Linked DNA regions of Homo sapiens. The protein of the gene in region 3 interacts with the protein of the main gene of each other region in a pairwise test. Each region holds a gene or a part of one and is shown on either strand. Other genes may lie near its edges.

What was found. The genes of interacting proteins can lie anywhere in the genome.
Region 1: the proteins of KATNA1 (region 3) and KATNBL1 interact in binary tests that used the Homo sapiens proteins (3 or more experiments, as listed by UniProt).
Region 2: the proteins of KATNA1 (region 3) and CLU interact in a two-hybrid assay, tested with the Homo sapiens proteins (one study listed by BioGRID).

The regions. Positions count from the first base shown.
Region 1 is NC_000015.10:34,207,083-34,214,105, forward strand, and holds the start of KATNBL1 (KATNB1-like protein 1), read right to left. Parts: upstream 3,015-7,023; 5' UTR 2,869-3,014; intron 1-2,868.
Region 2 is NC_000008.11:27,611,687-27,619,246, forward strand, and holds the start of CLU (clusterin isoform 1 preproprotein), read right to left. Parts: upstream 3,015-7,560; 5' UTR 2,969-3,014; intron 66-2,968; exon of another isoform or gene 1-65.
Region 3 is NC_000006.12:149,645,704-149,653,521, reverse strand, and holds the start of KATNA1 (katanin p60 ATPase-containing subunit A1), read left to right. Parts: upstream 1-4,807; 5' UTR 4,808-5,053; intron 5,054-5,278; exon of another isoform or gene 5,279-5,401; intron 5,402-7,038; exon of another isoform or gene 7,039-7,161; intron 7,162-7,818. UniProt on the Homo sapiens protein: Catalytic subunit of a complex which severs microtubules in an ATP-dependent manner. Microtubule severing may promote rapid reorganization of cellular microtubule arrays and the release of microtubules from the centrosome following nucleation.

The DNA.
Region 1 (7,023 bases), on a different chromosome or scaffold from region 3:
AGGCTGGAGTGCAGTGATATGATCATGGCTCACTGCAGCCTCCAACTTCTGGACTCAAGGAATCCTCTCACCTCAGCCTCCCAAGCAGCTGTGACTACAGGCGCATGCCACTACACCTGCCTAATTTTATTTTATTTTATTTTTGAGATGGAGTCTCACTCTGTCGCCCAGGCTGGAAGGCAGTGGTGCGATCTCGGCTCACTGCAACCTCTGCCTCCTGGGTTCAACCGATTCTCCTGCCTCAGCCTCCCAAGTAGCTGGAACTACAGGCGTGTGACACCACGCCCAGCTAATTTTTTGTATTTTAAGTAGAGACAGGGTTTCATCGTGTTAGCCAGGATGGTCTCGATCTCCTGACCTTGTGATCCACCTGCCTCAGCCTCCCAAAGTGCTAGGATTACAGGCATGACCCACTGGCCCTAATTTTAAAATGTTTTGTAGAGATGGAGTCTTGGTATGTTGCCCAGGCTGGTCTCAAACTTCTGGGCTCAAGCTTTCCTCCTACCGTTGGCCTCCCAAAGTGCTGGGATTACAGGTGTGAGCCACACCAGTTCTGTGGCTGCACTGAAGTGCAGTGGCACAATCTCGGCTCACTGTAGCCTTGACCTCTTGGGCTTAAGCGATCTTCCCACCCCAGCCTCCCAAGTAGCTGGGACTACAGACACATGCCACCATGCCTGGCAAAATATTTTAAATTTTTTGTAGAGATATGGTCTCGCTATGTTGCCTAGGCTGCTCTCGAACTCCTGGCTTCCAGAGATCCTCCTGTCTTGGCCTCCCAAAGTGTTGGGATTACCAACCCTGCCTAGCCCCACCATCCACCCTTCTGTTCAGTGCCCTACATAAATCCTGCAATTGTTAGTTTTTCGCAGAAGCTTTACCCAGTTCAGTTCTGCATTCATCCACTGTACTAACGAAGAGTGTCATATATATTTTTTGTTGTTAATCTCATAACCCAAACTAGATTAATCTCCCTAAGGTTGGTTGTCCTGGCACATTTTTTATTTTATTTTTATTATTTTTTATTTCAATAGGTTTTTGGGGAACAAGTGGTGTTTGGTTACATGAATCAGTTCTTCAGGGGTGATTTCCGAGATTCTGGTGCACCCATTACCTGAGCAGTGAACACTGTATCCAATGTGTAGTCTTCTATCCTTCATCCCCCTCCCACTCTCTTTCTACCAAGTCCCCAAAGTCCATAGTGTCATTCTTGCGGCACATTTCTTTTGTATAGCCAATTGGGTCTACCACCCTGTTGGGCATACAGGCAATCGAAAGCTTTGTAACTGATGAATGACATTTAAAAGCTCTGCTATAGATAAGTATAAACTGCTGATTTCTTACTAAGTGATTTTGCTTTTGAAATTTATTCCTTGTCAAGGAGGTATTAGTTTAAGTATAACCATTTCAAGTACAGAATAACCACTCAATAAGTTTTAGGGATGAAAACATTTAACATGTAATTTTTTATTTTAAAGTAATACATAAGTTGCTAAGACTAACACTTTCAAAACTTTCAGGAAAGGATATAAAGGAATTGAAAACATAAATTATAACACACATAAAGCTTATGAACTCCATTTATCTTAAAATAGTCAATGGATTTTTTGCTCAGGCACAAACCTTAAGTATAATCATCAAGAGCAGAAAACTTGAATGAATGGTGTGTGAATGAATGTATGTGTACACAAAAGCACACTCAGGTCTCCGAAGTTTAAGTAAATGAAATGAAAGGGCTTTGTAAACTAAAAAGAGCCACAGATAAAGGAGGTAGTAGAGCAACAGAGTTAAAAGCGTGGAGCCAGCCTGCTCGGGTGTTAATTATATTAGCTGTGTAACCCTGTACGGTACAAAAGTTACAATACTAAAATTTCCTGTGCCTTAGTTTCTTCACTGTCAAAATGGGGACAACAGTATATATCCCAAAGTAAAGCTCTTAATACGCCCAGCGCATAGAAAGCACAAAATAAATATTGCCCATCATTATGATCACACTGGCTAATATTATTATTGGCTAATATTAGTTATTAGCCAAGTAAAAGCCTCAATGGATGACGTTTCAATTCAAGTCTGAAGCTGGCTATCCAAAGAAACTCCAAAAAACCCAGCAGATTTAAGCTATTAGGTGGACTAGTTTCTCATAATTCTCGCAAGTGCTGAACTGATGATTATTACACACCTAATTTCTCTTACAATTTTTTTTAAATCAGCAAAGAAACTGACATAGGTATCTCTGTTTTCAAGGAACTTTATAAGCCACAAGAAAACAAACCAACTCTTTGTTATCTCCATATTTAAGCAATATAAGAGCGTAGTAAAAGCCTAGATACTTTACAGAACAACTTTTCAGAAAATACAGTAAGGTTTTTAAAGTTGCAATCGACAATTCTTATGCAGTTATGTCAAGTTTTTGTCCTGCGAAACAAAAGCTCATCCGTCAGGAATCCGAGGACCCGTCGGAAAATAAGGAAATGCCTGGGCCGGGCCTAGGCGCTCTGCGGAAAACCTGTCCTCAAAAATGCTCGCCCCACACTCGTTCTGTCCTTCCCCTTCCCCAGGTGCAGCTGTCGACTCCACCCGAAGATAAATAAGTGACAACAGGTTCGGTCCACGCCTCTCCCGGCCCAGTCCCCTGGAGCCCCCCAGCGCCCGCTGCCCGACTCTCCCCGCAGGGACCGGCAGAGGGGCTCCGCCCCGGCCTTGCCGCCCCGCCCCGGGACCCGGCAGCGCTGCCGCGAGCCCGGCCGAGCCGAGGCCGCCGCGGGGCCTGCAGGTGGGCCCAGGGCGCGGCCAAGCCCGGCTGGAGTAGCCCTGCCAGGGCAGGGCAGCTGCGGGCGCGGGGCTCGCACCGGCTCGGCAGTCACTTACCGGCGCCTCATGGTACCGCGGCGCCTCAGCCCAGCCTCGGCGCTGACGACCAGCGCCCGGCAGCCTAGAGAGTCCCTCGGCTTCTGGGCCGAGTCCCACTCAGGGCCATTCAAACGCGGCCGCGCGCGCGGCCCGCCGGGATAGCTGGCGCTGTGGGCGGCTCGCGGGCTCCGCCCAACGTTGGCTCCGCCCCTCTGGGGGTCGCTAAGGGCCGGAGGGGAAAAGGACCTGTGGCCACAGTGCCCCCTGGTGGCTAGAGCTTCGCACGGTAGCCTTGCTATGGCGCGAGAAGTGATACTGCGATAGGAACTGAGGGTGGGTAAAGGTCAACGAATGACCGACCGTGCGCTAGGAACAACCTAGTGTGGGAGACCGTGCCTTAGTGGTGTACCAGGAGGTGCAAACAATTTCCTATAAAGTTATGGTTCCGGGAGAGATTTATTCATTCACACCTATTTAAATACACTAAGAGTCTGGGCACAGTGGCTCACACCTGTAATCCCAGCACTTTGGGAGGCCGAGGCAGGAGGTTCACCTAAGCCCAGGAATTCAAGACCAGCCTGGACGACATGGGGACAACTACCCCCCACCCCCCACCTCCGCCCCCGTCTCTATAAAAATAAAAATGATACTAATAAACGCTCTAAGGCATAGTTTCTAAAAGCATGGATTGTGGAACTATGTGACCTTGAGCAAGTCACATAAACTCCTAGGTGCTTTGCTTTCCCCTTCTGTAAAATGGGGACAATAACAATAGTATCTGTCTCTTAGTGTTGTGAGGATTAAATGAATTAATACATATAAAATGCTTAGAGGAGTGCCCGGCATATGGTAAGCCCTTCGTGTTTGTTAGTCATCATTTTTTTAGTTCCTATTATGTGCCAAACTTTGTGCTAGACTCTTAAGAACACAAGAAATGTACATGATGCAGAACCTGTCCTCAGGAAGCTGGTTCGGTCTTGTTGGGATGGGGAACACTAAATTAGATTATGAGGTTAGGGTTGGGTCTGTAGATGATGAACTTTTAATTACTGAGGGCAGTTCTCTTCATTAGAACCAGGCTGCTCACCTTCATAGATAAGCCACCGGTCAAGGTTAGCCAAGCTGTGACAGGAGCAAGTTTGTCTATGGTGGTTCTCTCGCCCCTTGCAGAAACCAACCAAGCAGTGCCTTTGGTGGAAATACTTCCTCACCACAAGACTACATCCCTTGGCTTGCTTTTTCAGGCACTCATTTCGGAACTCAAGGCTTGCCTAGGGAGCAGGCTGCTTAAGTTTGGTTTAACAATCTTTTTGAAGGCCCGCCATGTGCCAGGCAAATTGTGCCTGGTGCTGGAAATCGCCTGAAGCAGCTCTCAGTGGCTTGAAAAACAGGAAAAGAGATCATTCCAATACACTGCAGTGATAAAAGGTATCTCCTAAATGCCGTGGGAGTTCCGAGCAATGGGAGGCCTGTCAGATAAACTGATCAGAACTAAGATGTCATCAGGTTGTTATAACTTTATGTATTTTTCCTCCCTAGTAACAGAGTCCTTACTTAATCAAAAAAAAAAAAAAAGTCATGTTGAAAATTGAGGCAAGACCTTAGGGCAGTGGGAAAATAGTTTTAGGATATTTGGCATAAGCAACACCTTTGAGAGCTTCTCGATTGTACCAAGCATAAGCAAGGCACATACATGCCTATGTGTGGGGCCACATCTGTTAACAGGTGGTACTGTTGAGAGAGTCCAGCTAGGTGAGTAAAGGAAGCTGGAGCCCTAGGTTCCATGTATGTACAATAAAGAATATTTCCTGAATATGACTTCCACTAAGTAGATGTGTTGTTTTAAAGAAAATAAAAATTCAACACACATGGGTGAAGTCACTTTCTCTCAAGTCATTTCTTCATCATCATGAACAGGAATTTCTTGATGACCCACTATGCAAAAGGCACTGTGCTGGCCTCTCATCAGAAGAATAGGGTAAAAAGAGTGTACTATATGATCGTTATCCTCAAGGGAGGCTAAAGAATTAAGACAAGTAATGGAGTCCTGGAACTCAGGGAATCTGCTGTGTTAACACAGAAGAATCTCAGCTAATACAAGGCCTCCAGTTGCTGGAGGCCAGAGAAGAACCTTGATATTCTCATTTCTGGAGCTTGTTAGGGCACAGGATCTCAGGCAGGTTAATCTCCAGAGCCAAGTTATAAAGTTTGTATCAGTGATGGGCAGCCCAGGCCCTCACATCTCATAATTTCACATAAAAATAAGGAAAACTGCCTTTGCATTGCTACTTTTGGAATATATACAAATACTGTCATTTTAGTGATGAAAATGCAAGGCAACTTTCTTCATTGATACTTTTCCTATCAATAAAGTTGAATTTTTCCCCCTTGGGGCTCAATAAAATTTGAATTCTTACTAAAAAAAGGTACAGCCCATACATTAAAAAAATCCCTACATCAGTGTTTGTGTACAAAAAGGTGGTTTACTGATAGCCTTCGTGGTGGGCAGTCTCCAAGGGTGTCTACTCCTCTGGCCATTCCTTCATTCCTTCCTTCTGAGAGAACACGCAGCTAAGTTAGCCTTCCTGCCTCACATCCCCCTCTCTACGGGGTGCAGAATCATTCAAGGACACAGTGTAGAGTGACCCACATGAGAAAAGAGCTGCCATGCAGTCCTGTGTACACTGCTTGATGGCAAGCAGGGGAGGGATGGTGGAGCTGGGCCTGATGAACTGGAGAGGACAGACAGGATGTTCCTGACAGAGAGGTGGAAATGCAAAGTAAGTTCTAGTACTGCAGTCTATTCTGATTTGAGTGGAGGGAAAAGTGCTTGCAAGAGTCACAGGAGTGAAGACTGAAAAGGTACGTAAGGCACCTGATAGGTTGCGAAGACCTGGAATTATCAAGCAAAGTGTTTGAGGTGCAAGGAGACAGCAAAGACAATTGAGCAGGGGAATGACTAAGTCAGTTCTTTAGAAGGATTGATCTGTTTGGGAGGCCAAGGTGAAAGGATCGCTTAAGGCCAGGAGTTTGAGACCAGGCTGGGCAACATTTCAACACCTCAACTCTACAAAAAATTTAAAAAATAGTCGGGCATGGTGGTGCATACCTGTAGTCCTAGCTACTCGGGAGGCTGAGGTGGGAGGATCACTTGAGCCAAAGAGCTCAAGATTATAGTAAGCTATGATTATGGCACTGTAGTCCAGCAAGAGAGCAAGACCCTGTCTCTTAAAAACAAACCAACCAAAAAAAAAGCAAGAAAAAGAAGAAGAAGAGTTGATTTGTTACCAGGATGCTGGATGGCCAGGGGTAGGGAGGAATGACTGATAGCAATAACATTAGGTATAAAAGTGTAGTTCCGTCTAGGGTCCTAGAAGCCATATCATTTACTGCATTGTATGTCATTCTCATTGAGACCAATGCCGATTCTGACAGAGAACAATGCCTGAAGGGACCTAAAAGACAGCAACAGCTCACCCATTCCACACTGCTCAGCCTCAGCACCTTTGGAAAATTCTAGGCAGTTGACTTTAGCAGTCAAAGTGAGAAGTCAATCCCTTTTTTCTGCTCCTCCCTTCCCTACCTTCCTTTGCAGGCTGTGGAAGGAAGTAATGGCAGAAGCAGTAAGCAAAAAAAACAAAAACAAAAACAAACCCAAAAAACAAAACAAAACCCCTGGTAGTGTTTTTTGCGGGGTGAAGGGTGGGTGGTAGGGAGGTGTTGAGTGATGGGGGATCCTATTTTTAAGATAGCTTGTTTCTGCTACATCTACAGCCCTCTATTGTAAATCTACAACTGAGATCAGGTGACCCAAAAACATTTATGACTATGATAATATTTGGTATTTATAGACTTTCAAATCCGAATCTCAAGAAACCATCTCTCTCCTCCTGCAAGTACATTTCCTGCAATTAGACTATACTGTCACCAGGTGGAACGTGGTGGGGGCAGCATGTTAGACTAGCCTTGGAGCAAGGCTCATCTCTATTTAAAACCTAGATTGCTGCCTTTGGGCCGTTTCTACACCGGTTTTTACCTTAATGTGCAATGGGGATAACACTCTCCTCTCAGGGGCTGTTGGGAAGTGGGATAACCTATATAAAACATATACAACAATGCCTAGAGCAGTGATTGTGTCTCTCTCTGAAAAACTGAGTTTAGTGATTTTTCCAA
Region 2 (7,560 bases), on a different chromosome or scaffold from region 3:
CATCTGGACACTCAGTAGCACATTAACAAGGAGTGCCTCTCATGAGAAGTAATCAGGCGCAAAGAGCCAGGGAGCAGCGTGGGAGAAGAGATGGGGTCAGCGCCTTCCCCAGAGATGGGGTAGGGGGCGGAGACCGGGCTCACCAGGAAGGCTGTGGTCTCACGGGCTCTGCCCCAGCTGCCCACTGAGCCCTGAAATGCCTCCAGCAGGAACAGAGCCTTTGTCATGCCAGAGAGACAAAGCCAGCCAGAAACACCTCTCTGCCAGGGGCCCCTGAAAGCAACAACTTCTGGAAAAACCCATTCAGAACTAGGTTCTGACCAGAAGACAGGGTGCTGGGCCATGAAGAATGGGGCAGCCAAAGGCAAGATACAGGAAAGGAATTCCAGACTCAGCAGCGGGCACAGAGTCTGCTCCAGGGAGCCTGGGGTCCCTGGTGAACCATCCAGCTCAGACCTGGGAAGGAGGTCGTTCTCTCACCCAACCTCTCTACCCTAGCGGTGAGGCTGAAGCCCAGAGAGGGCATGGGACTCCCTAGAGTCCACAGCATGCTCATGGTAACCCTGGGATGAGAGCCCAGCCCTCCCGACCCCTAGTCCAGTATTCTTTCCTTGATTCCAAGTCACTTAAATATCTGAGCCTCAGTTTCTTCATCTGTAAAATGGATCTAATCCAGACCTCAGAGAGGGGAATGTGTTCTGTAAACACGAGGGTCTTATGTAATCATAGTAAATTCTGACTACTTCCAAATTAGACTGAGGTCTGAGGCTGGGCATTGGCAGTGTCTAATCAACATGTCTGGAGAGGGGCAGGAAAACCGAGACAAGCACACAGAGGCCACCTGTGGTCCCCCGGACTGTGTGGCTCTGCTTTGCTGAAATGATTGACCACTTTTTAAAGTACTTATGAATCACTGCAGGGCTGGTTATAATGTTGGTTCTGAGACTGCTTTTCCAGCCAGTCTGCAGGTGATATGGATGCTGCTGATCCAAGGAATGTTCTAGAACCGTGACTGCACAGCCGACCTCCTTTCCTTTGCTCGGACTCACCTCCCCCCTCATCTCCTCTGCCTCCTGGGAGCCTGGCTGCCAGCTGCCCTGGGTGGAAGAGCCATGCCAAGGCCAAGGCCCTCGAGTCCCCAGCACTACCACACAGCCTCATTCTCCCTAAGAAGGCTTAAACCACTTGGCCTTGCTCCTTCTACCAGAAAAGGCCGGTTCTGTGGACAAAGGGGCTGCTCAGGGGAAGAGGAGGAGGAGAAGATGGCGGGGGGTGGGGGGCAGGGGGGGCGGGGGGAGCAGGCAGACTTTGGGAGCAACTCCCCTCCAGGCACACCCTCCTGGGAACTTTGAACTGAGCAGCTTCCCAAAACGTTTCCAAGCAGGGCAGGGCTGGAGGCTTAAGAAAATCAATGACCTGGCAGGGCGCATTGATTCACACCTGTCACCCCAGCACTTTGGGAGGCCAAGACAGGCGGATTACTTGAGATCAGGAGTTCGAGACCAGCCTGGCCAAGGTGGTGAAACCATGTCTCTACTAAAAATACAAAAATTAGCCGGATGTAGCAGCATGCGCCTGTAGTCCCAGCTACTCAGAGGCTGAGGCATGAGAACTGCTTGAACCCGGATGGCGGAGGTTGCAGTGAGCCGAGATGGCGCTACTCTACTCCAGCCTGGGCAACAGAGTGAGACTTGGTCTCAGGAAAAAAAAAAAAAAAGAGAGAAAAGAAAGAAAGAAAATCAATGACTGTGAACAGGGAGCCGTGGGGAGGATGGGAAGACAGTGAAGAGGGCACACAGATGGTGAGGGTTTCAATCCCAAAGCCCCGGCTCCTATCTGCTTCTTCAAATGGAGAAAACTAAACCAAAAGGAAAATAAGAAAAATAATCACCGGTAATTCATATCACCCAGAGGCAAAGGTTAGCACTGTGGTATATTTCCTTCTGTCTTCCATGCAGTTTATACAAGATTCTTCACATTCACCATCTTCAAATATTCTTTAAGGGCATACTTTTATGGCTATGTAATACTCCACTTACTCACGGACCTAAGTTTATTTTACCATTCTCACAAGATTGGCCATTTCAGTTGTGCCCAATGCTCCACTATTATTATAACTTAACATTTTCATGGGCATCTTTTTTTATATAGTATCTGTACTTTCCTTTAAATTCCTAACCTCTCCGTTTAAAAAATAATAATAAAAATCATATTTTTTTTAACTAGGTCCAGAAATTCTGGAAGGTCAAGAGGCTTTGGCTCGAATCCCAATTCTGATACTTATTTGCTGTTTAGTGTTGGCACCAGTCCTAAACCTCTCCAGGCCTCAGATTATCATCTGTAAAATGAGACTGTGGAATCAGAGGTCTGAGGCCTGGTGGATCTTGTGTGACTTTTCTCTGATGCACCTCAGATGCATTAGGAGGCAGAAAAAGTCGGATTTCGGTGGTTGCAGCATATACTGAAATCCGCAGCCTCATACTTACAGGCAACAGTGTCCAGAGAGCTAGAGAATTTAGAAGAAAACTAGATGACTCATGCATGCAAGCCGAAAGCCACAACTGAGAGATCCGCATCTTCGCAGAGGATATGCTGCAGGAAGGAGCTCGGTGCAGGCCAGCTCTGTCACCTGCTAGCCTGGGTCTCCCGCAACGCGGCAGGTCTCCAGGTCTCAGTTTCCCCATCTTTGCGAAAGGATGATCATTATATCTGTTCTATTTACCCCCCCACCACAGAATTGTGGTTGGAGCTCGTGCTCTCAGGCGGCGGTTGCGCCGGGGCCCCTGGCTCAGCTGCCTGGTGATGGGGCTCCGGCCACCTCCCCTCCCTGGCTTCCTGGGCTCCGTCGAAAGCGCAGGGGTTGTGACTGCGAGCTGTGTCATCCCTCTCTGCCTGGCTGCCATCCCCTGCCCGCCCATCCGTCCTGGTGTGGCTCTGCTCAAGGGTAGGGAAGACGGGGACATCTCACCGGTCAGCGGCACCCTGTGCCCGCGCGCTCCTCCTGGCGACGCCGCGTTGTGGGCACTGGGAGGCGCCGTATTTATAGCGCTCTGCTCGCGCACACACCCCCTTTGGGGCTGGCTGCAAACCTGCATGACTCACGCCCAAAGAATGCCGCGGAAAGCAAGGGGAGCTTTCTGGAAGCCGGGAGGTGGGGGCCGGTGCAGCACCGGGCTGGGGGCGCCGGGGGGCGCATCATCACCACGAATAGCTGTGCTGGCTCCAGGAGAGACCCTGAGGTGCGGCCGCTCGGCGCTTCCAGTAGGGAAGAGCCTGAACTCGCGTGCCCATCTGGGAGCCCCTCTCACGCGGTTAGCCCGGCTGTCTGTCCCAGTCCAAGACACAATCTCACAGTTCCCTGGCCCTACTGACCTTAACCTTCACATTACACAAGCGCCACTTCTCTTGACCCATTTAAATAGTAAAGAGTCAGACATAATGAGGGTGGGATGGAGAGGGGCCTTGTGCTGGAGAAGAGAGCACAGGAAGTATTGAAACGCCTACTCCTGGAAACATCACACTGATGGGGGTCCCTGGACTGACCCGCCAGGCCTGGAGGAAACAGAATTGTGTTTAGGAGTGATCAGAGCAGATATGTGGAGAGCCAGAAGGCCTCTCCGGGGTCCTTGATCCACAGAGCTTAAGCAATCACTGTCCCCATCTTTTTGGAACCCAACCAAGCAGGGTGGGCTTCATGGCTGTGGGACCCTTGCAGATCCACGTTTGGTTTAATGGGCTACTGTGACGGTCTTGAAATTCTTCATAGTTTTTGAACCAGTGGACCTGAATTTTTATTTTGCCCTGAGCCTTCCCAGTTAGGAAATCAGATCTGTGTCCAGAGGGGTTTGCTGGTCTCCAACTGCTGGAGTTCCTTCTGCTGAGAGCAGGGAGAATCTCCTGTCGCAGCCACCCCTCCCCCTGGCAAGGAGGGGCAAATCTAGGAACCCTGGAGGTGCAGCTACTTCTTGGGGAAGAAAGTGAGCTGCCCATTTTGGAGCCAGGGATGTTTAAGCCCCAGGAGAGAAGTCAAGGGGCTGACAGCTGGGGCAATGGGTGGACAGGGCGGGTACAGGCAGCCCCACTGTGGGTGGCAGACTTTGAAAACCATGTGAAACAAAGGGGCTTAAAGGAGAGCTGCGTGGTCAGGGGCTGAGTTTTCCAGTTCAGGATCAGGACTATGGAGGCACAACATGGAGGCCCAGTCCCTTGCTTGCCCAACGTCCAGGGGCCACTAGGACCCCAGTCCTTTTCAGGAGGCAGCCTCGGGGAATCTTCAAGGCCCATGACTAAGTGGGAGAACCCAGACCAGGTCCATGAAAGTCTGATTACAGTCCTAGGTGTGCCCCTAGACACTGGGTGACCTCGGACTAATCACTTTGCCCTTGGGCCTCAGTTTCTTCCATCTGGACGATGAGGAATCGGGAATGGATCATCTCCACGGCTCCCTGCAACCTAACCTAGAGCCAAGCCAAGTATTAGAAGGCCATTAACCCAGAAGAAGAAAAAAATGTCCCAGAAGAGGCTACACTTTATTTTTCTTAAAAAAAAAATGTCTAATTATCAGTAACAGCTACATTTTCTGTGGACAGTGCCTGCTCCTTATCAGTGCCTGCTCCTTATCAATACCTGAGGTTAGAAGAATTGTTTTTGAGCTCGCTCCTTGTAACTTTTCTGTTCTGTAGCTCCCTCAGCATCCGGAACAGAAGGCATAAATCTAGTTATATTTTTAAAAATTAGACTTTGGAGGTCAGTCAGTGAGATCCGCCTTAGCCAGCTGAATTAGGGGAAGGGAAGAGAGGAAGAAAGGACTTGGGAGAAAATAGCATGATTCACAGATTCACAGTCATGACTGTGATCCCTTGGGAATAATTACTTGATTATTCCCACTACTAAGCAAACAAGGTTCAGAAGGTCAAACTTTGAGGAAAGAAAAGTGTAAATTTTGAAAGCGCCATAAATGCATCACCAGATGTTTCATATTCTAAGCAGATCATAGACATTGATTGGTTCAGGACTCACACACTGCTTGATTCCTACCCCATCCCCAGCATCTGCACCCGGTGGTCATCCTGCCCATGTTTGAATGCCACCAATAACAGGGAGCTCACTACCTGCCATGCAACCATTTGTCTAGTAAAGCTGTTGATAAAGTTAGGGCCTTCTTTGGTTGAGTCACAGTCTGGCTCGTGTATGGGCCAATCCGGAGCCCAGTTCTGCCCTCTGGAGCCACACAGAGAAAATCCAGCCTATCTCTCCCATAGTGCCCCTTCTGATATTTGAAGGCAACGTAGTCTGCTTTTCCCAGTGACCTCCAGGCTTGCAGCTCCTTGCCTTGCCGTGGTTTGCAGACTTTTCCCCAGCCCTTTGACATTCTGGACCTCATCTCTCTTGAAACCCTTGGCCCAGCCCTGGACTAGCCAATGCCAGTGGGGAGCCTTGGACCAGCCAATGCCGGAGGGCCTGAGCACACAAAGCAGAACAGGACCACCCCTTCCCTTGCCCTAAACACTCCAAATAAGCTTTATCAGATGCTGAGTCACTGGGCTGATTCATAGAGAATGCATCATCTTCTTGGCAGGTGCTGCTGTTTGATCCTCTGTCTCCCATTATGGACTTACACAGCTGGGTTTGGGGCATTAGCTTGATTTATTTTCTTGGAGAGTCAGAGCCATGGGGAGGGCCAGGGAGGGATGAGTAAAGACCCTTGCATTTATCTGTTTATCTATGCTTTGTGCACCATCTCTGGCTGCCTGAATGTCTCTGGGGCTGCTTCGCTACGCAGTGTCCTTATTACACATCCCCAACCAGCCTTTGTCTGGCTCAGCACCACAAGCAGGACAGCTCAGCCAGCAGTCTGATACAGCTGGAACAAACTAGGAATGGGCAAGAGCAGTATCCTGTGGCCTGTGATTAAGAATCACTCTCAGATGGGCGTGGTGACTCACACCTGTAATCCTAGCACTTTGGGAGGCTGAGGTGGGAGGATCACTTGAGTCCAGGAGTTCAAGACCAGCCAGGGCAACATAGCAAGACCCAGTTTCTACAAAAATTAAAAAATTAGCCAAGCATGGTAGTGCATGCCCGCAATCTCAGCTACTCAGGAAGCTGAGATGGAGTATCGCTTGAGCCCAGGAGGTCAAGGCTGCAGTGAGCTACGATCGCACCACTGCACTCCAGCCTGGGCAATAAAGTGAGACCCTGTCTCTCAAAAATAAAAATGAAAAAAATAAGAGAATCACTCTCCAAGGGGAGCAGGGAGGGAGGATGGTGAGAGATTGGTCAACCAGTACACAGTTAAAGTCAGATGGGAGGGATAAGTTCTGGTATTCTATCGCATAGTAGAGTTTAACTTTTTTTTTAGGTCCCAGTATCTATTGCTCCCCTCTATGTGTCCATGTGTTCTCATCATTCAGCTCCCACTTATAAGTGAAAACATGCAGAATTTTGTTTTCTGTTCCTGTGTTACTTCACTTAGAATAATAGCCTCCAGCTCCATCCATGTTCCTGCAAAAGACATGATCTCGTTCTTTTTTATGGCTGCATAGTATTCCATGGTGTATACCGTAGTATTCCATGGTGTATATATACCATATTTTCCTTATCCAGTCTGCCACTGATGGGCATTTAGGTTGATTCCATGCCTCTGCTATTGAGAATAGTGCTGCAATGAACATATGAGTGCATGTGTCGTTATGGCAGAGCAATTTATATTCCTATATATACCCAGTAATGAGATTGCTGGGTGAAATGTTAATTCTGTTTTTAGCTCTTTCAGGAATCATCACACTGCTTTCCAAAATGGTTGAACTAATTTACACTCCCACCAACAGTGTATATAAGCCTTCCCTTTTATCCACAACCTCACCAGCACCTCTTATTTTTTGAATAATGTATATTTCAACATAGGTAGAAGAGAGAACTTACAATGTTCTCACCACAAAGAAATGTTTGAGATGGATTTGGTAATTACCCTAATTTGATCCTTACACAATGTGTGCACGTATCAAAACATCACATTGTACCCCACAAATATGTACCATTCTCGTGTCAGTTTTAATTTTTTTTAACTTAGTGAAAGGCTGGGTGCAGTGGCTCACGCCTATAATCCCAACACTTCAGGAGGCCGAGGTGGGGAGATCACTAGGTCAAGAGACCATCCTGGCCAACATGGTGAAACCCTGTCTCTACTAAAAATACAAAAATTAGCTGGGCATGGTGGCACGCGCCTGCAGTCCCAGCTACTCGGGAGGCTGAGGCAGGAGAATTGCTTGAACCCGGGAGCTGGAGGTTACAGTGAGCTGAGATCGCACCACTGCACTCCAGCCTGGCAACAGAGTGAGACTCCATCCAAAAACAAACAAACAAACAAACAAAAGGATGGATTTGCTAATTACCCTAATTCGATCATTACACAAACGATCTTAGTAAAAAGATCACAAATGATTCTTAGTAAAAAAGAATCACTTTCCAAGCTGTAATTATTTAATGGGTATATACATTTATTTAATCAATTACAGGCCCATGATCAAATGGTGGCTAATAAAATCATATCCAGTGAAA
Region 3 (7,818 bases):
GTGGAGGGAGATTTCTATGGCTTCTCCTTTTAAAGATGCCTTCCTAAAAGTTCTACACAACACTTTCACTGCCAGAAGTTAGATCCATGGTCACATCTAGCAGCAAGAGTGTCTGGGAAATAGTCCTTATTCCAGGTGGTCTGATTTTATCAACCAGGTTCTGTTATGAGAATGGGTATTTGGCATCCAGTCTCTGCCGCAGTGAGCAAGCTGAGAGAATTTCTTTTTTTTTTTAATTATTATTTTTTGAGACAGGGTCTTGCTGTGTTGCCCAGGCTGGAGTGCAGTGGTGTGATCTCGGTTCACTGAAAGCTCTGCCTCCTGGGTTCAAGCAATTCGCCTCCCTCAGCCTCCCAAGTAGCTGGGATTATAGGCACGTGCCACCATGCCCAGCTAATTTTTGTATTTTTAGTAGAGATAGGGTTTCACCATGTTGGACAGCCTGGTCTTGAACTCCTGACCTCAGGTGATCCACCCACCTCGGCCTCCCAAAGTGCTGGGATTACAGGCCTGAACCACCGTGCCTGGCCCAAGTTGAGAGAATTTCTGATAGCTTCTATTTCTTTGAGGTTGGAGGCATAGTAATTCACTGAAAGGGCAGAAAGGGCTGGGTAGCTGCCTTTCTGGGGTAAAAGTCTGAAATAGGTTGGGTGCACTGGCTCACGTCTGTAATCCCAGCACTTTGGGAGGCTGCAGTGGGAAGATCATCTGAACCCAGGAGTTCGAGACCAGCCTGGGCCAACATGGTGAGACCTTGTCTCTACAAAAAATTTAAAAATTTTCTGGGCTTGGTGTCATGTGCCCGTAGTTCTAGCTACTCAGGAGGCTGAGACAGGACGATGGCTTGAGCCTAGTGGGTCAAGGCTGCGGTGAGCCGAGATCCTGCCACTGCACTCCAGCCTGGGGGACAGAGCAAGACCCTGTTTCAAAAAATGAAAGTCTGAACTAATGGGAAGAGTGAGACATAACTGAAGTGAGACAGGCAGAAAAATGTTTCGGCTGGGTTAGAAAGACATGAAATTATGGCGCATCAATCTTCACAGAGATGTGATTTTCTTCGTAGCATTCAACAGCCTGGTATTAGCAGATCAGTGATGGAAGCTGTTGTTTAGGAAGAATGTGTATAAGGTTAGTGAAGAACACTGGTGAATCTGTCCCAGTCTGTTACTGCAGCTATGGTGTGACATAATCTAAAAATTCAGTAAATCTTACTTATGGTTAGATTTTTCTAGCCTTATACATACTGTATCCCAGGAGATGGCTCAAATGTTTGAAGTATAGAAGAGGAATGCCAGATGCATCAACCACGTGAGTGAAGTTAATAAACTGGCCCTAAAAGTCCTTTCCAATTTCTCTCATGAAATGTAAAAAGTGTCTCAAATTCTTTTATGTATTTATTTTTTGAGACAGAGTCTTGCTCTGTTGCCCAGGCTGGAGTGCAGTGGTGCAATCTCTGCTCACGGCAACCTCCACTTCTGGGTTCAAGTGATTCTCCTGCCTCAGCCTCCCGAGTAGCTGGGACTACAGGCGCCCACCAGCACACCCACTAATTTATGTGTTTTTAGTAGAGATGGGGTTTTGACATTTTGGCCAGGCTGGTCTCAAACTCCTGACCTCAGGTGATCCTCCTGCCTTGGCTTCCCAAAGTGCTGCGATTACAGGCGTGAGCCACCACACTTGGCCCTCAAATTCTTTGAAATTATTTTATTTATTCTACAAATATCTAATTAACACCTACAATATGCCAGACATTGCTCTACTCAAATGGACAAAGTATCTGACTTCATTAAGTTTACTCACTGGGGCAAGAGAAACAAATATATAATGTGAAGAAGGTCTTCATGGCCATTCACCTTCTGTGTAATTCCAGGGGTCACAGTACCTCTTGCAACAGTCCCCCAATCTATTCTCTCTCCCCTCCAAAACTTCCTACGTTTAGCTGTCAAATTAATCCTCCTATTTGCTATATAACTTATGTCTTCATTTGACACCTTTCAATGGGTCCCCTTTTGTCTACTGAATAAAGTTTAACTCTTTAGCTGGCACCTATCTTTCTACCTCTTTTCCCCTAACTTGTTTTTGTGTGTCCTGTGATTCTGCCAAATTAACCTGACCATTCACCAGGAAAATATAATCTCAGATTTTCTGAGTCACAGTTTGGATACAATCATTTTAGAAGGGTGGTGGTTGTAGAAGCCACACTGTAAAAGAAGAAATGACTCCTAGTCATGAGAGTGGTACACAAATATTCTGCTTCTTCAAGGCACAATGCAGAGATGAACACCTGCATTTCTTTGAAGTCAGGCTTGACCAGTGACTTGCTCTGGCCAAAAATATGTAGGCAGAGCAGCAAGTTTCACATCCAGGCAGAGGCTGTGCAATTTATTTCCCTTTCTTTTTTTCACTGCCAAGGGTCCCACTGCCTGCATCCACTCAAGCTATGAACATAAAAAGTAGATAAGAAAAAAATGCTATTGTTGAAGCCTCTGTGACTTAGAGGTTGCTACAGCATAACCCACTCCTGCCTGACTAGTACAGCTAGTAAAGAAATGGAAGTAGTGAATGTAAGCCACTCTCTGGAGGTTTGTCTTTCCACCTAAAAAAAGTCTTCAGCCAGGAGCGGTGGCTCACACTTGTAATCCCAGCACTTTGGGAGGCTGAGGCGGGCAGATCATGAGGTCAGGAGTTCGTGACCAGACTGGCCAACACAGTGAAACCCCGTCTCTACTAAAAATACAAAAATTAGCTGGGCATGGTGGCGGGCACCTGTAATCCCAGCTACTCGGGGAGGGTGAGGCTTCAACCTGGGAGGTGGAGGTTGCAGTGAGCCGAGATCGCACCACTACACTCCAGCTTGGGCGACAGAGCTACACTCTGTCTCAAAACAACAACAAAAACCCAAAAAATCTTCATATATAATACGCGTACGTACACGTAATAAAATGTGCCCAGTTTGTGTACTGTTGATGAATTTTAATAAATGTTTACACCTGTGTAAGCACTACCCTAACAGAACATTTCCTTTCCATCACCTTAAATATTTCCTGGGGACTTTCAGCAATCTATTTCTTCTCCCCCTCCTCCTGAATACAGCCTCAGGCAGCCAACCACTGATCAGCTATTATTATAGATTAGTTTTGCCTGTTCTAAAATTTCTTTTCTTTTTCTTTTTTTTTTTTTTGAGACAGAGTCTTGCTCTGTCACCCAGGCTGGAGTGCAATGGCGCGATCTTGGCTCACTGCAGCCTCTGCCTCCTGGGTTCAAGCGATTCTCGTGCCTCAGCCACCCAAGTAGCTGAGATTACAGGTGTGCGCCACCAGACCCAGCTAATATTTGTATTTTTAGTAGAGACGGGGTTTCACCATGTTGGCCAGGCTGGTCTCAAACGCCTTGACCTCAAGTGACCCACCCGTCTCGGCCTCCCAAAGTGCTGGGATTACAGGTATGAGCCACCGTGCCTGGCCTAGAATTTCTTATCAATGGAATCATACAATATGTATTAATTTTGTGGCCTTTGAGAAGTTTTTTAACTGTAAATTGGCTTTATAAATTAGCATACCTTTGAACTCACATAAAGGATGAAGGTTGAATTAGGGTAATTAATCTGTACCTCCCTGAATTGGTTTTGATTCCAAAAATATATACTAAATATAGTTTCCTGTTCCCTATTACAATAGAGTTCATATTTACTACAGTGAAACTATCATTTTCCACTCAGTTGAGACGTTACAAGACTTTAAGCCCCATGAAACATTCTATTTCGTGACCACTGTATACCCAGTGCCAACACTGTCTCACACATAGTAGTTGCTGAGTAAACATTTGTTGACTGAATGGATGTATTTCCCCTGAATTGCTTCTACATGTCTATGTTAGATGACTGGGGTGCTTTTATTTTTTTAGAGATAGGGCCTCACTTTGTCTCCCAGACTGGAGTGCAATGGCGCCATCATGGCCCACTGCAGCCTCCAACTCCTGGGCTCAAGTGATCCTCTTGTGTCAGCCTCCTGAGTAGTTGTGACTACAGGCGTGCGCCACCATGTCCAGCCAATTTTTGTACTTTTTGTAGAGACGGGGGGTCTCACTATATTGCCCAGGCTGGTCTTGAACTCCCGGCTCAAGCTATTCTCCCGCCTCAGCCTCCCAAAGTGCTGGGATTACAGGGATGAGCCACTGTGCCCAGTCGGGATGCTTTAATGTTAGAAACTTAATTACCTTGCGTTTTTAAAGGAATGTGTGAGAAGTGCCCTATTCTGCCTCAAGTGATGGCAGAGGGTGGAGATTGAGACTGGAGGAAGCCCTGTGCAGTACATATCTGTAAGTCATGAAATAGCATCATTTTCCTTGTCTGGTCATATTAAAACGGTGATTAAAAAATCAAGAAAATAAAATCCCACTAGCAGTGTGTCCGAGAATCTTTGTTTACCTCCTCCCTATTGTTATGTCATGACATGGAGCCCAGCTGGGGAATTCTGAATACTAGGTTCTAAAACAGGATTTGTCATAAACGAATTGCTTGATCCTGGACATTCACCTCTAAAATAGACACCTGACCTCGGTGTGTGTGTGAGTGTGGTGAAAATCAAGTGGGAGGGAAAGTGAGCAAGCACCTGAACAAGGTACAGAGGCGCGCGAGGTAGTACCATAATACCATCTACACCAAGGTCTATACTATCCCTGGTCTCCGCTGCGTCCGCCGGGAGGAGGCGGTGCAAGAATGCGCACGCGCGGCCCCGGGCCCGGCCACACCCTCTTCCGCCGCTCCCGCCCAGCGACCTCGCTCCCGGGGCGACGCCCCGCGTGCGCCAGAGTCGCCGAGGTCGTCCCCGGCACCGGAAGTGACCCTGGCGGGTTTGTCTTCAAATTCTCGGCGAGCAGGAGCCGCGCCGGCAGGTGGTGTTGACGATTGAACTGGGCAGTACTGGGGCCGTGAGCGGAGAGCAAAGTGGGCTGGACTGGGTCAGGCCCTCCTTCCTCGCTGCCGGGATCTCCACTCCGCCAATCCCCTGTGCCTGGCGTTGGGCGGTTTCCCGAGGAGCTTGGGCCGCCGCAGGTGAGTTTTCACTCTGGCGGTGCTCTGGGGACCCCCGATTTTCCAGGGCCGGGCTGGTGAGGGACTCGGGGGGCCCACAGCGAGAACCCGCCGCGCAACCCTCCGTGAGCCTGCCTGTGCCTGAGCTGAGGTCCTAGGTCCTTGCTGTTGTCCACGATAACTTGGCTTAGGTGACAGTCCCCCTACCTGAGGAATCCTGTCAGGCGGAGGACTTTTCGGGGGCTCCTGTCGATCCCATCTTTTGATCTGTGTCGTTAGCGAAGTCACCAGCCGAGTTTTTAGTTCTTCGATTTTTCGACTGGTTCTCTCCAGAACCCGCTCACGCCCCCCACCCCGAAACCCTCACAGGTAAAAATCCCGATGGCCATGACATTGGGAGGCAACTTCTTTTCTTAAAATTTGTTAGGTTCGAGTGATATTGTTGGGGATGTTATTTCTTATTTATTCTAGAGCCCGGCGTCCTCTGGAAGGCCTGTGGGCCTTTTGGTTTAGAGTTGGTACCTTTTAGAAAAGTTTTCCCTCGAAACAGTTGTTTCATACAAATGTGATGACAAAGTTAGAGATAAACGTAGATCCTGAAGTGCCTTACAGTGGATAATCTCAAGCTCTTATTTAATCAAAAATAGTTTCCTGTTAAAACCGCGAAGGGCCGCTTTTATATTAGTTACTAACTTCCAACAGCACAGTGATGCTCTTTTCTCTTGAAAGCACTAATTTACGTCTTCCTCTTTGAAATTAGACCTCTAGTTATTGCTGAAAACATTCCCGATGTTTTAGAATGGGTGCAGTAGATCTTTGTCACGTAATCACAATGATAATCACCTTAGTAGATGTTAAGACAGATTCTTGAAATGTTTTTACGGGCTTAAATGTCTCAGTATAAAGCCCTATTTTCTTTTCCAAAAGAGCTGGGTTTTGTTCTTTTTTTTTTTTTTTTTTTTTTTTTTGAGACGGAGTCTTGCTCTGTCGCCAGGCTGGAGTGCAGTGGCGCAATCTTGGCTCACTGCAACCTCCGCCTCCCGGGTTCAAGCGATTCCCCTGCCTCAGCCTCCTTGAGTAGCTGTGACTACAGGCGCGCTCCACTACGCGCGGCAAATTTTTTGTATTTTAGTAGAGATGGGGTTTCACCATGTTGGCCAGGCTGGTCTCGATTTCCAGACATTGTGATCCGCCCGCCTAGGCCTCCCAAAGTGTTGGGATTACAGACGTGAGCCACTGCGCCCGGCCGGTTTTTGTTCTTATACCAAGAAATAGGAGCAAAACTTTGTTTTGTATTAACATTAACAAGTTGTGGCCTGTAAATACCTTTAAAAAAAAAAACACGCAGTAGTGATCAACTTCCCAACATTCCTAGACTATGAAAAGCTATATAAAGCTTCTTTATAGCGTTGGTTATTCAAGAAGCGTTTACATTTTTATAGGTAATAGGCATGCTATGTAGTCCACAAGGGATTCTCCACCTCATTTTGAAACTGGTATCAAGATGCTGACAAATATTGAGGATTAGAGAATCTTGTTGAATTCACTCTATTAACAACATTGTTGAATTTCTATTAACAATAGTTTGGGTTTTTTTAGCCACTTGACTGTTTAAAAAAGATAGTATTATCACATAAATATGGTCAGTGTTGATAACATGCCAAATAGCTTTTGCTTGTGGCGTTTATCGATAGGGCTTGAATATGACTTTTAAATTACGTTTTAATAATTAAACTCACTGATTTGTTTGTTTAGGGTAAACTGAAAGTTTACTGTACAAATAGAGTGGACTTTATATGTACTTTTTTTCTGAACAGGTTGCTTTTTGGTGTTTTTAAAAAATAGTGGTAACTTTCTTGTGCTTAAGTATTTATCATATGATGGTTATAAAGGTAAGAAAAATGTATGCCATGCTGTAATTGGTCATGGGTCATTCATTTATTGTGCTTATTCGTAATCATCAGTGGCTGACTATAAATTAGCATGTGGTTTCTTTCATATCCCAGAGATGAACATTCTGAAAATTACTTACCAATGTATGGCCACTTTTGAAGTCATATACACTTGCTTTACTGAAATGCCTTCAGGAAGATGCATGATTGGGCTTCGTGATCTTTTTGTTTTAGGAGGTAAATTTTACAGAGAGGTATTTAAAAAACACTTTCAGCCTTCCAACATTGCTGCTGATTTTTTAGTCTGTGTTTAATAATATTCTATGTTTGTCTTCTCTTACTAAGCAAAGAAAACCCACCTAGAATAAATAAGGTGATATCCCTTCTATTAAACTTCAAGGATTTCAAGGTCTAATTCTGTCTTATTTTTGTCTTCAGTGCAATTCCTTGCAACTTAGTTGGTGTTCCTTTAATATTTCTTGAATGAATGACCCATGCACATTATGTTAAAAAAAACTGCAAATAAGTGGAGCCCAGCCTGAGTCCTTTAAAAATTAAATGGGTAAGGTATCCTCTTTAGGTGTGAAATAGGCAGGGCCCTGTATTTGTTGTTTAGAGAGAGAATAAGAATCTTAGAACTCAGATATTTCAATATTTTGCCTGTTCTTTTTCAGTCTCTGTGATCACTTCTTTTTCCTAATCCTAGAGGAGAAAAAAAAAAACTTTCTCTGTGGAGAGACAGCACTGCATCACATACTATATTGCTAGAAAATTTGCTGTAAAATTGCGATTTCAGTATTTTTAAAAATTTGATTCTGTCACTTGAGTTAAAATTTCACATTGCATCTTGCTTACTCTAAGTAAGTTAATTTAGTCATTAGCTAACTCATAAAT